3 separate regions of the Homo sapiens genome follow, and regions 1 and 3 are each reported to be linked to region 2. Evidence: microRNA targets listed by miRTarBase, many of them from high-throughput screens and not tested one by one. Region 2 holds a microRNA gene; each other region holds the end of a gene's coding sequence.
Evidence for each region. Region 2 holds the annotated microRNA hsa-let-7i-5p (UGAGGUAGUAGUUUGUGCUGUU, at 1,914-1,935, opposite strand). A microRNA usually pairs through its seed, bases 2 to 8, with sites in the 3' UTR of a target mRNA and lowers its output. Matches are read on the target gene's strand: a 7mer-m8 pairs with bases 2 to 8, a 7mer-A1 pairs with bases 2 to 7 and ends in A, and an 8mer does both.

Region 1: miRTarBase lists ANKRD46 as a target of hsa-let-7i-5p. Seed matches in the 3' UTR shown: 7mer-m8 at 4,126-4,132.
Region 3: the mRNA of TNS3 is a reported target of hsa-let-7i-5p. The part of its 3' UTR that is shown has no 7-base or 8-base seed match.

What each region holds. Positions count from the first base shown.
Region 1 is chr8:100,518,219-100,523,323 of GRCh38, forward strand. It overlaps ANKRD46 (ankyrin repeat domain 46), which reads right to left. Exons shown (of 5, transcript NM_001270377.2): 5 at 2,554-4,553. The coding sequence ends at 4,337. Among named protein-coding and RNA genes, the nearest start is that of ANKRD46, 39 kb to the right of the region's middle.
Region 2 is chr12:62,600,367-62,605,625 of GRCh38, reverse strand. It overlaps MIRLET7I (microRNA let-7i), which reads right to left and starts at 1,940; the gene lies at 1,857-1,940. It overlaps LINC01465 (long intergenic non-protein coding RNA 1465), which reads left to right and starts at 2,192. Exons shown (of 1, transcript NR_121682.1): 1 at 2,192-3,875. MIRLET7IHG (MIRLET7I host gene) reads right to left here and starts at 2,883. Exons shown (of 2, transcript NR_186001.1): 1 at 2,791-2,883. It overlaps MON2 (MON2 regulator of endosome-to-Golgi trafficking), which reads right to left. Exons shown (of 35, transcript NM_015026.3): 35 at 5,150-5,259. RefSeq lists enhancers at 1,500-2,021, 2,022-2,543, 2,650-2,839, 2,920-3,029, 2,544-3,065 and 1 more and silencers at 1,870-2,169, 2,260-2,569.
Region 3 is chr7:47,273,686-47,278,790 of GRCh38, reverse strand. It overlaps TNS3 (tensin 3), which reads left to right. Exons shown (of 31, transcript NM_022748.12): 31 at 571-3,637. The coding sequence ends at 715. Among named protein-coding and RNA genes, the nearest start is that of SNORD151, 190 kb to the left of the region's middle.

The DNA of each region.
Region 1 (5,105 bases), not on the chromosome of region 2:
AATGGCTCCCAGATAAGTAGGAGTTAACAACTGTCAAAATCAATAAAATGATTTCACATAAATTATGTAATAGAAACACAAAATAAAGGGAAAGAAATTTATAATAAAATGTATATTTCAATATGTAAATGCTCAGGCCCAGCTACATTAGAAGAAACAACGAAGTCATTACTATCTGTAATAGAATTATGTTGATGACTTAATTATAAGTAGCACTGCTGTCAATAACAAGATTTTTGAAAAGCGGTGCAATTCTTGATAAAGTTTTGAACAAAATGAAGTCGAATCTTCCCTTAATTATCTCGTGGTTGTATTCTTGGAAAATTCATGATACATTAAAACTATATACCAGGCCGGGTGGGGTGGCTCACGCCTGTAATCCCAGCACTTTGGGAGGCCGAGGCGGGTGGATCACGAGGTCAGGAGATCGAGACCATCCTGGCTAACATGGTGAAACCCCGTCTCTGCTAAAAAATACAAAAAATTAGCTGGGCGTGGTGGCACGCCCCTGTAATCCCAGCTACTCAGGAGGCTGAGGCAGGAGAATGGCGTGAACCCGGGAGGCAGAGCTTGCAGTGAGCCAAGATTGCACCACTGCACTCCAGCCTGGGCGACAGAGCGAGACTCTGTCTCAAAAAAAAAAAATAAATAAAATAAAAAAATAAAACTATACCAAATAATACCTTGTTTTAAAATGTGAAATGGTTGGGTTTTAGGTTCAGATATCTAAAATTGTTTGTTTTCTAAACACACGAATGTCCAGCAGAACATTCAAGAATCATGTGGGATTTAGAACAATCCTTTGTTAGACTAAACTGTCCCATGCACTGTGGGATGTAAAACAACTATGGTCCCTGCCCACTGATTGCCAGGAGTGGCCCTAATCACTTCTAAAACCATTAGTCCAAGCTCAACATATGAATTCTACCAACCCCACCCCTGCCAATGACTGGTTCATCAATCCAGGCCTAAGTCAACCTGTGTAAGGGTACTGGTTGGTTTGAGAATGGGGTACATGATATCATGTCAGCCAATGAAACAGCTTGTTTGCATCAAAGTTTCCTACGAGGGAGTCACAGGAAAGACGGTCTCTTCTCTATGTGGTGATAAATGGATGTGATGTCTAAAAATTCTGTACTCATTGCAGAACCAGCTGGAGGAAGCAGCCAACAAGGAGGGCAGGGCAAGAGCACAAGGGAACTGGGCTAAAGATTCTGGATGATGTCACCCTTGGGGTCAACCCTACCTTTTTATGTAAACGGGCTTTATGTAACTGGACTTTCAGTTACATAAACAAATACATTTCCTATGGGGTAAGCCGTTTTGAATTCGGATTTTGGTTCCTGCAGCTGAAAGCACTTTGATACATGCATAAACAATTTCACAAGTCAAAGACTGAGGCCTGGTTTTGAAATAAAAACATAGAAACCAAAACAGCAGCAGTGGCAGGTGAATATTGTTCCTGGGCTTCTACACGAAGTGGTAAACCTGTGGCAGGTGCTGCTGATCGGAAGCCTGCATGCTCCACAGGTGAGGGGGCTCCACACTGCCAGCCTGTATAGTTCGTTCATGAAGCTACAGGCGCACTGTGGAAGGAGGACCAAGCACAGCTCACACCTGCAGCTTGTTGCGGGGGATGCATAAAAGGCAAAGAGCTATTCAACCTGAAAAGAAAAAATATAGCTACAGGTATAAAAGCAATGCTATAAGTATTTGTGTACCAAGAGCTCTACAGGATGCTCTGTAGACAGATGGGGTTATAAAAATAGACTAAGTCCCTGCTCTCATGAAGCTTACAATTAAACAAGTTAGAAAGAAAATCATGTTTACAGAGAAACGGATCAAGGAATGCAAAATACAAGTAATAAAACTGAGTGTGGTAAGTGGTGGGGAAAGGAGGGGTTGGGAAGGAGGCAGTCAAGTACGGTTAACTATGGAAGACTTTCTGACAAGCCAGGGTTGGAGCTTGAATATTAAAGCTTCTACCACTGGGAAGATGTGTAAGAAAGGAAAAAAAGTAAGTATATAGGACCACGAGTGGAAAATTTAGTAATGTCCTGCTGAAATGGTATCAGGCGAGGTTCTGGATAAATATGGTTCCATTTCCAGATTCATGAAAGACAGCGGGACAGGAGGAAAGCACAAGCATAATTGGGGCTGGAGCCTCAATCTGGAATCCCTCTTCCACCAGGTCCTACCTGTTTGACCTTGGACAAGTTACTTAGCCATCCCTGTGTCCATTTTCTCATCTTATAAACTGGGGTCATGTAGTGCTCAAGGGGGCGTAGGGTAAAACTTGCATGCTAAAAACTTGCATAATTGGGAGGGGCTTAATTGTGGTAGTTATGATCATCACCCTTAAATCTACGAGCAATTCACTCAAATTAATTTCACAGTATTTATAAGGCAAACATATATGAAACTCAATATACCTAATACATTAGGTTTGAAAAAAAGCTGTGTTTTAAAAAGCAGCTAATTGCAATCCATTACAAAATCCCCAAATTAAAACTATAATACACTAAAAAAAAAAAAAAAAAAGAGAAATCGTGATTAAGGGATATATAAATACATTTATTGGTGGTATTCCTGAATGATGAATGCAGAGAACAGAATACAAAGAAATCAGCACATAAAAGGAACCATTAATCTTTAAAAATGCTATATACTTACATTTTGACCAATTTTGCATATTTGTTTAGATTTACAAACAAATGTAAAGCTAATTCCAAAGTTTTCTTCTGAATATACTTCAAATTTGAATTGTAGTGTTCTCCATTCCAAAGCCAGCTGTTTTTTGCTGGATTTACACCAACTATGATTTACTTTGTTTGTATCTAACCTAAAAGCAAGACTCTGCAAGCTGATCCTGAAGCAGCCAGTTACTCAGGAATTTTACAACAGCTATTAAAGAGAGGATAAAGCCACATGAAAGAGCAAGCCTCAATACTAGATACATAGATACAAGAGAAAATACCAAGAAGCAAAAAGAATCACAGAAATACCAATTCTATTCTAAAGCATAATTTCTAATTCTAGCAGCAATTCAATTAGCAATAGCTTAGGTGCCTTTATTCCAAAAAACAAAACCATTAGTTCTTTCACTACAATTTCCTGACTTTACCCAATAAATAATTATCAAGCCTTCATATTCTTTTTTAACCACTCAAGAACATAATTCATACATTACAGAATCATTAACAAAAGAGGCCTTCAAACATACTGCTGAAAGCTGCAATATAGTTTGAGGGCCAGATTTCAATTTACATAATATTACCATTCATAAAGAGTTTATGACACCCAGTACGATACTGTCCAGCACTGTTAACTCAGAAATGCTCCATCCATTCTTGCCATCAGAGAATTACAGATATGGATGGGATTGTTAAAAGTCTAACAGGGCCTCCAAATAGGATTGCACATGAAATAATTATGAACTATGATAAAACTGTGACAACACAGCTAGCTTATAGAACTGAGTTTTTCACTATAATAGCACTACAGAATTATGACAGTTAAATATCAGAATTATTTTTCCCTGCTAACTATTCAGTAGAAAAAGGATTTTCTGACTGTAATTCTGATGAACTGTTATCTTTGATGACTAGGATACTCGGGAAAATTGGAAAGTGAACAAAATGAACTCATTTATTTTTCACAGATATTAACAAGCAAAGCAGTTTACAAAAAGATCAAAAATTATCCTAAAAACAAATAAATATAAGATCAAATCAATTATCTTTGAACAAAATATAGCTCATTTTCAAAAGTTTTGTTTGGTTTGTGACTAGACTTAAAAATACTAAAATAAGCCAAATAGATGCTAACAATACTAATTTGCACACAAGATTTGAAAAAAGTACTTCAAGTTTTATCTCTTATCCCTAGAGAAAGTAAATAAAAAGTGGCTCTTGCAAAAATAAATGAAAACAAAACCACCAACAAAAACTAATCATATAAGATACTGTTTTTCTTTTTGAATACTTCAATTGGTCCTATATTAGGATAAGGTTTTGATAGCAAGGACTTCCTAGCTTCTTCCTTTATCTTCCATTCTCTAGTCACTTCCGTGTTTTTATCAAACAAGGCTACGTGTAGGCTTTCCTACAAAGTCAGGTTGAGTCAGAGGTAGCGTTAGGATGCAATATACTTGATCATAGTATGTAGTTAGTTCAAATGAACACATCATTATCTAAAAGGATTACAATAATTAAAAATGCAAAAAGAACATGTACTGCCCTCACTGCTTTGCGCTAAGAAAAATTCTGAGAAACTGAGAACAAACATTGGAAGCCAGGAAACAGGCAATTAATTGCCTCATCTTCCATGAGCTCCTTTAATGCACCAGTTCAGGCTGGTTTTCCACGAAGGGTAGCACCCCACTCACATAATAAGCAATGCCAAGAGACAGCAAAGCAATGACGAAGATCAACAGCAATACTCTCCAGAAGCCCAGATCCTCCACAAACTCCTGCCACGTGGTTCGGAAGCTGGAGAGGACTCCTTCACCTTGCTGCAGGTTGGGATTGAGGAGTGAATGGCTTTCCATGGCACTGTGGAAGAAGAAAGAGCAAAAAGGGCATTAAAAAAACACAGCAATTCCAAAAACATAAAACCACAGGGCTACTATTTAGAAAAGACCAAATACACACACACACACACACACACACACACACACACACACACATATATATATATACACACTCTTACATGCTTACGTATCTGAACAATATATACTAAACTGTAAATTGCTAAATGGTAATGAGTATGTTTCTCTTGGTTTAGAATTTAGTAAACTCAAGTTAAAAATTCTATTTAAAAGGTCCTGGCTGGGCGTGGTAGCTCATGCCTGTAATCCCGACACTTTTGCAGGCCAAGGAGGGAGGATCACTTGAGCCCAGGAGTTCGGGACCAGCCTGGGTAACATAGCGAGACACCATCTCTATTTTTTTTTAAGGTGTCCTGAGCAGAAGTCTTGAAATAGGTTATGAGTTGTCTCCATCAAGATATTAAACCACAACACATTCTTGTTATGTTAAATTTAGAAGATTCAAAGTGCAGACTCATAATTTAAGAATGTGTTAATACGAATAAGCAGACATGCA
Region 2 (5,259 bases):
GCAGAAATATAGCTATGGGATTAAAACAAGTCAGCTGGTGGCAGTATTTTCTCTTGTAACTTAGGAAACAGTTAACCTCTCAAAGTACCTTTACATCCAATAACTCAAAAATGTTACTACTATTTGGGCAATATGTAGTTGTGGATAAAATTTACTTTAAAAACACAAGATATAAAGTATGAATAGTTTATCTGTATAGGACATTGAGCATTTCTGGTGTGCTTATCCGCTTAAAGTTTAAATTACCAGCAGAATTTGTTATACTTTGGGGTGCAGATTAACAACCGTTGATTCTCCATAAAAATGTTAGAGTGTAGTGGGTTGGAAGATTACCTCGGTTGGTTGAATGAAGTGTTTTGGAAAATAAAATCATAATGAAATTAGCATGTTATGATTAGTTTCTCCATAAACCAAGATTTGACACAGCACCGCAGAGGTTTTCATTATTTAAGAAAACAAGCACTTAACAAAGCCCTGAATTTACTCTGCGTTGCTATCAAGAAAAGCAAACTTCAAGAGCCAACATTCAAGCATTTTCTGCATCTTAAGATTCAAGATAAGGTTCTTCACCGCCCTTCCCACAATGAGGCGGCTCCATCCTGATGAGATCAGATTAAGTAAGGTTATTCTCAAGGCTAAACCAAACCCAATCAAGGCACATATATTAGATCACTTTTGAATGATAAAAGCATCAAACTCCTGCTGAAGGGTTTGGTTGGTTTAAAGAACTGCCTTATTTGTTTTTCAACTGAGCATCAGAAAACCATAGAAAACTGCGATTACATTATATTCAAAACTACTTATTCTGTACAAATACAGATCAGTTTTCAACGAAAAGTACTAAAACTGACCACTTACTTCCCTCAGTGAAAATAAAATAAAAATACAAGTATCTTGTTTTCCACGCAGACTTCAGGGTATTAGAGCACTGAGTATTTTCATTAGTTATCCAAACTACCTTTTTTCTCTATGCAAAGGTATTTTCCTATTAGGAGTAGTGGCCACTCAGGAATCAAAATGAGTGTTAGTAGATTTTAAACTCAAATCTAGAAACCACTTTCAATTCCTAGTCCTCTTCTCCCATACAAAACCTCAAAGATGTAAGTACCACATAACATTAGAATCAAAGGCCATAAAAACCAAAAAACCAACCCACCACACCAGCAGAATCTGAGCCCCAAGGTTAAACTAAAAAGAAAAAACAAAAAACAAAACCATTCACAGCACACTGTACATAGAATTTATTTGTTTGCCTCATACATTAAAAAATCGGAATAGTGCAATTACCTACAAATAATTTCAATCTTCTCATTCGCGAGTTGCAAAGTTTAAAGAGAAACTTTAAATTGCTTTGGGTTTACGTTTTTAAAGACACACTCAGATTTACTAAGAGAGCATATCAGAAACCAGATCTAAAATGTTAAGGCATAAACTTTAATTATCAGGTCTACTTCTTCTGCCCCTCTAATGCCAGTTCTGCAGATCGCTCACACCACTCCAACCTACAGCTAAAGAATGAAGTAAAACAGGTACACACTAAATTTGGCATTTAACTGCTGAAAGAAGTGTTAGAATTTTTTAGGGTGAAAAAGTTATCTGTATCAATTATCTTACACAATTCCACTCCTTCCTTCAAGAAAAGGAATCCAATGGCTTAGCTCTTTCCCAACCTTTAAAATGCATCGCGGTCCACCCCACTCCCCTCAATTCCTTCTAGGAAAATGTGAAACTAACGGTTTCCGTGGTGGCCGCGCCGGCCGGGCGCCGAGGCTTCGCGGGCTGTCCCCAGGCAGCGCCCCGGAAAACAAAGGGGATTCCCAGCCATTGTCCTCCGCGGCGCTGAGCATCACCAGCACTAGCAAGGCAGTAGCTTGCGCAGTTATCTCCACAGCGGGCAATGTCACAACCCGACCAACAGCACAAACTACTACCTCAGCCAGGGCCATGGTGTCGGGGAGGCACGGGACCACGCGGAGGGCAGCAAAGCGGCTCCGGCGCTCCTCCGTCCTTCCTCGCCGCCGACGTCGGCCCGCCGCCCCTTCTTTTCCTTTGCCTTCCCCCCGCGCCGCGCCCGGAGACCCCGCCCAGCACCCAGCGGCTCGGCTACTCCCGGCGCGCCCCGAGAGCTACGGGGATGAGAGGCGGCGCCGGCGCCCGGGTGATACAGCCGGCGTTCTGTACGTCAGCCACCGCTCTGAAGAGAGAAAAGCGGCGGTGTCCTGCGGAGAGAGCCGCTCCCTCCACTGCCCGAGGGGAGCGCGTCGCCTCAGCCGCTCGAAAGCAGGAAATGGGCGGCAAAAGCGCAGTCAGACACCAACTGGTTCTGGACTGCCCCCGAGAGGCAGCGAGCAGCGCTCCCGCGCTTCGCCCGCTAGGAGCTGCCGCCACGTCCCGAGCTGCGCCGCTCGCGCCCCTCCCTGCTCCGAGTCCCCGGTGGGGGCTGGGCTGCGGCCGAGTCCGGTACCCGGGCCCCCACCCGCGCCGCGCTGTCGAACCCGCCGCCGGCCCGCTCTCGGCGCCGATAATCGCCGGCGGGCATCCCGCAGAGGCTGCCGCCGGCTCCGCCAAACAGCAGCCAAGGCATAGCCGGGAAGTCCCCAGGCCACCCGTTCCCCAGCACCCTTCGGGGAATTCCCGTTCAGCTCTACAGGAGGCGAAAACGGAACAAACGAAAACCCCTTAACAGTGAAACCGGGCCCGGCGATGGCCCGGGTGGCGACTGCGACGACTCGACGCGTGCGGACACAAGACCCGTCTCGCGCTCCGCTGCTCCTGTGCGTCCGGACGAACCTTAGAGATCACTTAAGGAGGCTCGCGCGCTACTCCTCACCACGTGACCGCCCCGCCAGGCCGCCCCCCGCGCCGCCATCTTACATCCGGGACAGAGGCGGCGTCCCCTTTCCCTGCCTTGGCAGGCGTCAGCGTGCTACCAGAAATCAGCCCTGAAAGAGGGGACCCCGATTCCACGTCACCAGAGTGCTGAGGCAGCGGGCGATGCCCTCCATCGGCTCAGCGGGGGGGAGTGGAGTCCCAAACTTTTTTCGGCCTTTGCCCGCAAAGAAGATGGCGGCGCATATCGCCGCCTAAGCGGACACGTTGTACCCTGGCCGTGGTTTGAAGTTTCCGGCACCTCCTTTCCCAACCAGCAAGGACACAACCATACGAGCCCCACCCACGCGGGGTGGCTGCCGTGCTACATTCCGCAGAAAACAGGCGGGAAAGCTGCGGCACAGCCCGCTTTAAACGCAAGCTTTTGGGACTTCTGGTTTTGGCTTTTTCTTTTTAAGCCAAGTTAGGGAGAAGGCTGACTGCCATGGAGCCACTTCTGCTTTTGGCCCAGACAACTTACGGGATTTTTTTTTTCCTCCCATTTAGAGATTTTTTGTAGGAAGTTAACAAATTATTTTAAAGAAGTAGTTAGGGCTTGTCAGATAAAATACAGGACGCCCAGTTAAATTGGAATTTCAGATAACCAGTGTTTTGGCATATGTGTGTTACATATATTTTTAAAATTGTTTATCTGATATTCCAATTTAACTGCACATTCTCAATTTTTAATGACTGTATCTGGCAACCCTATCAGCCTTTACCCCTGAAAATCCAGACTGCTTATGACAAAAGTAAGGAATGGAGGGAAATGAAAAGCATGTTTACCTACAACTTAGAATTGTCTTTGCCCAGACTTTGATCCTTCATGGAGGCCAGAGGGCCGTGGTCTAGAACAAAATTTGGCAGCAACTCATAAAGATATCCTTGTATAATTCCCTTTCTGGCAAAGTAAGATTTTTTTTTTCTTAAGCTATCACGATGTAATTTTGGACAACAGATCCTCTTGGCCAAGAGTTTAATTGCAAATTAAAAATTAAATAACTGGCTTTTTGTTTCTATTCTACATGGTATAGGCGATGGGACCCAAACAATTTCTTAAAGTAGAAGTTTTCAAGTTAAAAATCAGCCTGCCTGACATATTTCATAAGAACATTTTTAGGTGCATATTCAGAAACTATTTCCAATTAAGAATATTTGTGTAAACATAATACATTTGCAGTTAAATGCTTTACCTGACAAAGCATAAACTCACCTATCAATCACTAAGCATAAACTCAAAGCAAAAACTCAATCACACCATAAACTCATCTATCAATCACTTACCAGAAAGTCTGTAGAAACTTCACACCATCCTTCCTTGATAAGCAAAGATTGGACTGCCATGGGAATCAACCCTCACTGCTCATTGACTGCGCAGTGGATCAGATTATTCTGTACCAAAGCAAATGTCCTTTGCCATAATGGCACAGATTTTTAAATGGCCACTAAACACCTGTTTGGTCTATGGTATACAGATTTGTTACAGCAGTAGTTTCCAACTAAATTTAGTCATTATACTACTTTATCACTTACATTCCTTTCCATAATGTTTTTAACAGTGCTAACACCAATATACTCATCATCCACATATAATGTACTGTTACCATCAACTTTTTCTCCCCCCTCCCTGCATATCAGGAATCTTAAGTATCCTTTCTGAATATGACCACCGTTAATCAATTCTTTATCATCACCTCATAGCAAGAAAATTGCAACAGCTTTCTAGCTTAGCTTTCCATACTGTATATATCCTATCCTGCTTATGATTGCAAGTTTATCTTCCTTGGTTTTATAATTTATTCTTAAATCACTCCAGACCCTGCCATCTCAAATCTAAACTACTCTCCTTGGCTTTCAAGGAATTTTATGAAGGGACCCAATCCTTCACAACCAACCTTGTTTCACACAATACACCAAAATGCACTGTTTTCTATTTCACAGATATGCCTTGCTCACATTATCTTGCCTGAAATCCCTCCGTATATCCTTTGAACTCATCCAAAATCTAGGTAGCCATCAAGACTAACTTTAATTTCTATCTTAACCACTGAGCTTTTTCATTTCTTTAAAAAACTTCCTTCTGACTACTAACAGCACTATTAACCTGAACCACAGAAGACTAGGCTAAGGTTCCTATTTTATGATTTCATTTTAATCTGTACTTGTCTTTTACTGTACTTTACATACTTGTTAAAAGGTCTGTATTCCCTATAAAACTGAAAACTCCATGAGGACAGAGACTAACCCAATGCTTAACGCAAAAACAGGGTCTAAACAGTTGTTAGTGATACACCAGTATTTAATTGTATAGTCTTGTATCCAGTATTATTTTATATATGCGGTTTCCTTGACTAGCTGTAATAAGCACTTGAGAGCGCTCCAAATAGCTTC
Region 3 (5,105 bases), not on the chromosome of region 2:
CTGTTCTTTTTAAACAGCTCCCTGAAGTCTATGTAGTTTGTAATGCAGGCTTCCAAGGCCTGAGAGGAGCGCCTAGTGTATTTCCCCTTCGGTCCCAGTGGGTGGGAGTGTCGAAGTCCAGACAGGACTTGCATTCTGGCATCATCTCAGGAGCCCCTGAGTCCCTTGCCACTCGCCTTGCAGACTGTGGTCCAGTATGTCAGGACTGGGGCTCAGGAATCTGCAGGGACAGGTGCCCAGGAGATTCTGGCCCTGGCGTGGGGAAGCATCTATAGAGGAAGTTGAGCCTCAGCTTTGATTCAGGTCCTAACCTGGGGCTGTGGACAGGGCACTCACCTCTCAGCCTCAGGGTCCTCACTGCAGAGCTAGAGTCAGACATCCCATCTGTAGGTCTGTGAAGGCTGGAGGTAAAGTGCATGAACAGGTGGCCAGCAGGGTGCTGGGCACGTGGTTGATTTTTGATAGGTGCCACTTAAAATTCCTCCTGACAGTGCCGCTGGCAGCTGGAGGAAGTAGAAGCTTGGTACTTTGTGGGACACTGACCACTCTGACTGGACTTTCCTTTGGCAGAGTCTTTGGATTTGTGGCCCGGAAGCAGGGCAGTGCCACGGATAATGTGTGCCACCTGTTTGCAGAGCATGACCCTGAGCAGCCTGCCAGTGCCATTGTCAACTTCGTATCAAAGGTCATGATTGGTTCCCCAAAGAAGGTCTGAGAACTCCCCTCCCTCCCTGGACCCACCGATGCCTCTCGAAGCCCTGGAGACAGCCGTTGGGTGAGGGTGGGGCCCCCACTTTTTACCAAACTAGTAAACCTGACATTCCAGGCCCATGAGGGGAAAGAGGATCTTCCAGCTCTGCAAAAACAAGAACAAACAACATCACCGTGAATTGGCCTTTCCTGAAAGTGACTTATCTGACACATCTCTGTAGCCACATGCTTTTTGGGTAGAAGAAGCTGGGCATGGGTGCACCCCACCCCCTAGGGTCCCCATGGGAAAGGGACATGCAAGGAAACAGCACAGAACACGAGGTGGTCCCCATGTCCCTGGCACACTAGCATTCCGGGGGATGAGGAATCCCCAGCCCTTGAGGCAGAGGTGCCGAGTGACTGCCATGCTTCGCCCGTCCGCATGGGCGCTTCTGTCCAGCTGCACCCGAGGCCGGGGGTTTCCCTCACCTCGGTCTTCCCAAGATGGAGATGCTAACGAAACTGAGAAGGGGGCGTATGTTTGACGAAGGTTTGTGCAAGTCAGGCCCTTCTGGAACACAGCAGGGCCTACAACGAGGGGCCTTTGCGATGGGCTGTGAGGATGGGGGTGGTGGGAAGAATTGGCCACGTTGGAGACCCCATGCCACCCCACCATGGTGAGTGCTCTGTGCCTCCTGCTCACCTGTGGTGAGCTGGGCGAGCTGGGCGAGCTGGGCGAGCTGGGCTGGGGAGAGCCTGTGAGGACCGAGAGGAGAAATGAGAAGAAGGAACAAAAATATTATTTCTATGTAATTTATATTTTACTTATGCCAAATTATTTATGATAATTTGCCATTGCTATACTGTACCAGTGTCAAATGCTGCAGCCTGCCAAGCTGTGATTTTGTGAGGCTTGTCCCTATGTAGGATGCACCGCAGGCCCCTGGCCACTGAAAGAGTGTGCAGTGGACTGTGGGTCTCCCATATGCGGTGCCGCCCAAAGGTGGCTTTGCCTCAAGCAACCTACCCTGATGTTTTACTCATTGGAATGTTTTTCCCCGATTGTGGATGACTTCTTTTCTGATGGAGAGAGTCCAGGAGGGATGGAAAACTCCTGGATTTAAGCTCAGCATCCCCCACATGGGCTTTTCGATCATCTTCAGGCCTGAAGCTGCACGACCTGAAGTTCGCCTGCATTTATCAGCCCTCTTTGTGCTGCTCCTTGCCACCTTGGGGTTCCTGCTGGGGACCATGTGTGGTTGTGGCATGTGTGAGCAGAAGGGAGGATGAGGAAAAAGAGAAGAAACCCCGGTACTGACAAGCTGTTTTTGAGTGCCACTGTTTGCCATCATCTAAGCCACTGAATCAAGTGTATTTCAGGCTTATTTCAACATTCCAATGCCCTGGTTTTCCTGCTTGAATCTGTTCGTGGTCAAAGGTTTGGGGGAATTTGTGACCCTGGAACATCCCCAGAGTGAAAGATGGAGCTGGGCCACATCAGAATAAGGCCTTGGCCCCATCCTCTCACAGCCTAGGTGCTCTGCAGGCATGCTGACTGTCCTGATTGCGATCCAGCCCGAAATTCCCTCCTCTGCTTTCAAAAGTCAAATCCCCCATTCTTAGGCCACACTGGTGTCACAAGCTCCTGTCAGGGAGCTGGGGTTTGGGAATGTGCTTTGTGAACTCTGCTTTAAAGTGAGGGGCCGAGGAAAACTTAGAAACAGGCAGAGTTGGAAGCAGCCAAATCACAGTGGGTGTTGTGTGTGTGTGCGTGTGTGCATGCGTGCGTGTATGCGTGTGTGAAAGCAGGTGGACCATTCCACTTTTTAGCTCCTATTGATGCACCAAACCAAGTGCCTCATTTCTGTGCCAAATGTTTGCCTTGGTCGTTGTGGACCTCCTTCTCTAACTTGCGGTGGCATGACTGTCAGGAGGTGCTGGCATTTTCAGCAGATCCTCATGTGTTGACCCTGATGTCTTTAGCAGAGGCCTCTAGCATCTCGGTTTTTCATCCACTGCAGGAATGTGGCCACAGGGAGCAGAGGTTTGTACTTTCCCCAAGAGGTCCTCATCCTGAGACGGTCTCTACCCATGTTTAACCCAAAGAGTGCAGGCCAGGTTCCTTATCCTTCTGATGAAGGATGAGAGAGCTCATTTAGAAGTCAGAGCAAACTAGGGTCTCAGTATTGAGAAACGCAGCCTGCCAGGGAATCACAGAGACATCGGGGTGCCCGCGATGGCCCTCATGAAGCCATGCCTCGACGGCATTCAGGAAGCCCTGCAAACGTGCTTTTTGAACTCATTGGCCAGGTGTGATTTTTACACAAGGTAAACGTGGTCAAGGGCATCGGGGAATTTGCTCCAAGCAGATAGCTCCCTCTGAGGAACCAAAGGAAGCAAGTTTCCACGATTTCTGAAGAGCTGGTATAGGAAGTTTCTTTCTTCCTTTTGTGTTACATGTGCATTAAACAGAACAAGCTGTGTGTCATCACAGATTGTACTGTGGGCTCAGAAACCGTGAGAGAGCCCCCACCGTGGACACCGGCTCTAGGGCCACAGGAAAAGGAACGTTTCCAGGCATTTTGTCTCCAGGGCTCCCGCTGGACAGGCACGTACTGCCCTGGGGAGTAAATGCGGAGAGTTCACGAACTGTGCCCAACGCATGTTATAGCCAGGGTCCTACTAACTACTCAGTAAAAGAACGTATTGTTGTATTCCTCCAGTGTTAAGCTATAGCCATGTTAAAAGTCACTGTGCATTTATTCTCAGCATCAAATACCTTGTAACGTCTTCTCTGCCTTGTTAGTGCATATTTTTACTTTTCTGATACTGTAAAGAATATATCCAGTATGTAAATGAATGTTCTATAAATCTTTTGTATAGTCATTTTCTCTGCTCCTTAAATATCATCTCTATTCAGAGTATAATAAAATTATGAACTTGGTAAGCCTCCGTGAGACGGTATTTGTGTACCCTGAAGTATGTTTGTGTGTGTTTGCACATGTGTGTATGCGTGTGCATGTGTGCACTTTTGTGTATGTGTCTCTGCAAATGTGTGCATGTGCTTGCACAGATGTATCTTTGTCCACATGTGTCTGTGCGTCTGCGTGTGTGCTCGTTCATGAATGTGTGTCTGTGTGTTTACAAATCAGTGGATTCAGTTATAAAATCACAAATGTTTTGCTGTCAGGAATATATTAAGATTTCTGCCCAGAGACCTTTGAAATGTTATATTCAAAGATCTTTGAAGATTAACCACAATGCAGTGTTGATAATGGGTCCTGACATGTTTTCGATGTTGCTATGAATACCCCTACACACACACTGGCTGCAGAAACACACCCCTGAAGTGGGCCAGCTCCTGAAGGACCTCCCAGTGTCTATTGAAGTGGGCACTAAAAGTGAATATTGAGACTGGTGGATTCACTTACACATCAACAGATGCTGGAGACAGCCAGTGTCACCTGCCTCTTCTGTTCCCCCAGCCAAGGCTCCTCCCTCCCCACCTTAAGGGAGTTTGCCCTTTTCTACGGACTCTGCCCTCTTGGGCCTGTCCCCTCCCTCCTGAGTCAGGTGATGGGACACAGGACCCCATCTAACCTCACTCCCTCAGATCCAAACCAGAAAAGAAGCAATGCTTTGGGCTCATTTGGTTATGGACAGATAAAGATGGCAGTTAGCTGCCACCCTGTGCACAGTTTTCTGCCTGCGTGGTCAGCCCCCAGAGACTGTAGCTTTCCACTCTGAGGAGACACAGAGATATTTCACCCCAGCTATGTTGGGAGAGTGAACTTGAAATGGTCCCGGTACTACTGCTTTGGAGCAGAAGAGAGGGCAGGTGGTGGCAGATTAAATCTTGTCCAACAGGAAGCTCCCATTGAGTCTTTGAAGCCAGTCATTGCCCAGACCTTTGACCAATGTCACAAGGTGGAAAGGTGGACAGGGCATTGATTTCACTGCGGCTTAGGGAGTGTGCTTCCCAAGAACACCATACTTGTCACAATTACTGGGCTCCGTACAGTGTGCACATGTGCCTAGGTCCCCGACCAGAGCCAGCCCTGGGGACTGTTGGAGAGACCCAGTGGCCATGAGACCTCAGCTGGACAGGCCCCTGCCACTTGCTGCAGGAGGATGTTATGGGTCCCCCATTCATCTCTCAGCAATCTGTTACCTAATGAGTACCTGGGCCTTACCTACTGGGGTCGTCCTTCTATTAATGTGGTGGGCACCTTGGTCCGTCCACTTGGGGGGTCATTGATCTATTGTGTAATGAACACTTTGGATCTGCCCACTGGAGGACAGTAGGTCTGTAGCTCAGTTGGGCTTCTGTGTCTCATCCTGTCCCCAGGGAGGTAGGTTGCCTGCCTGATGGCTTTGGGGATCACACTTCACAGACCAGGGGCAGTTGGGCTGGT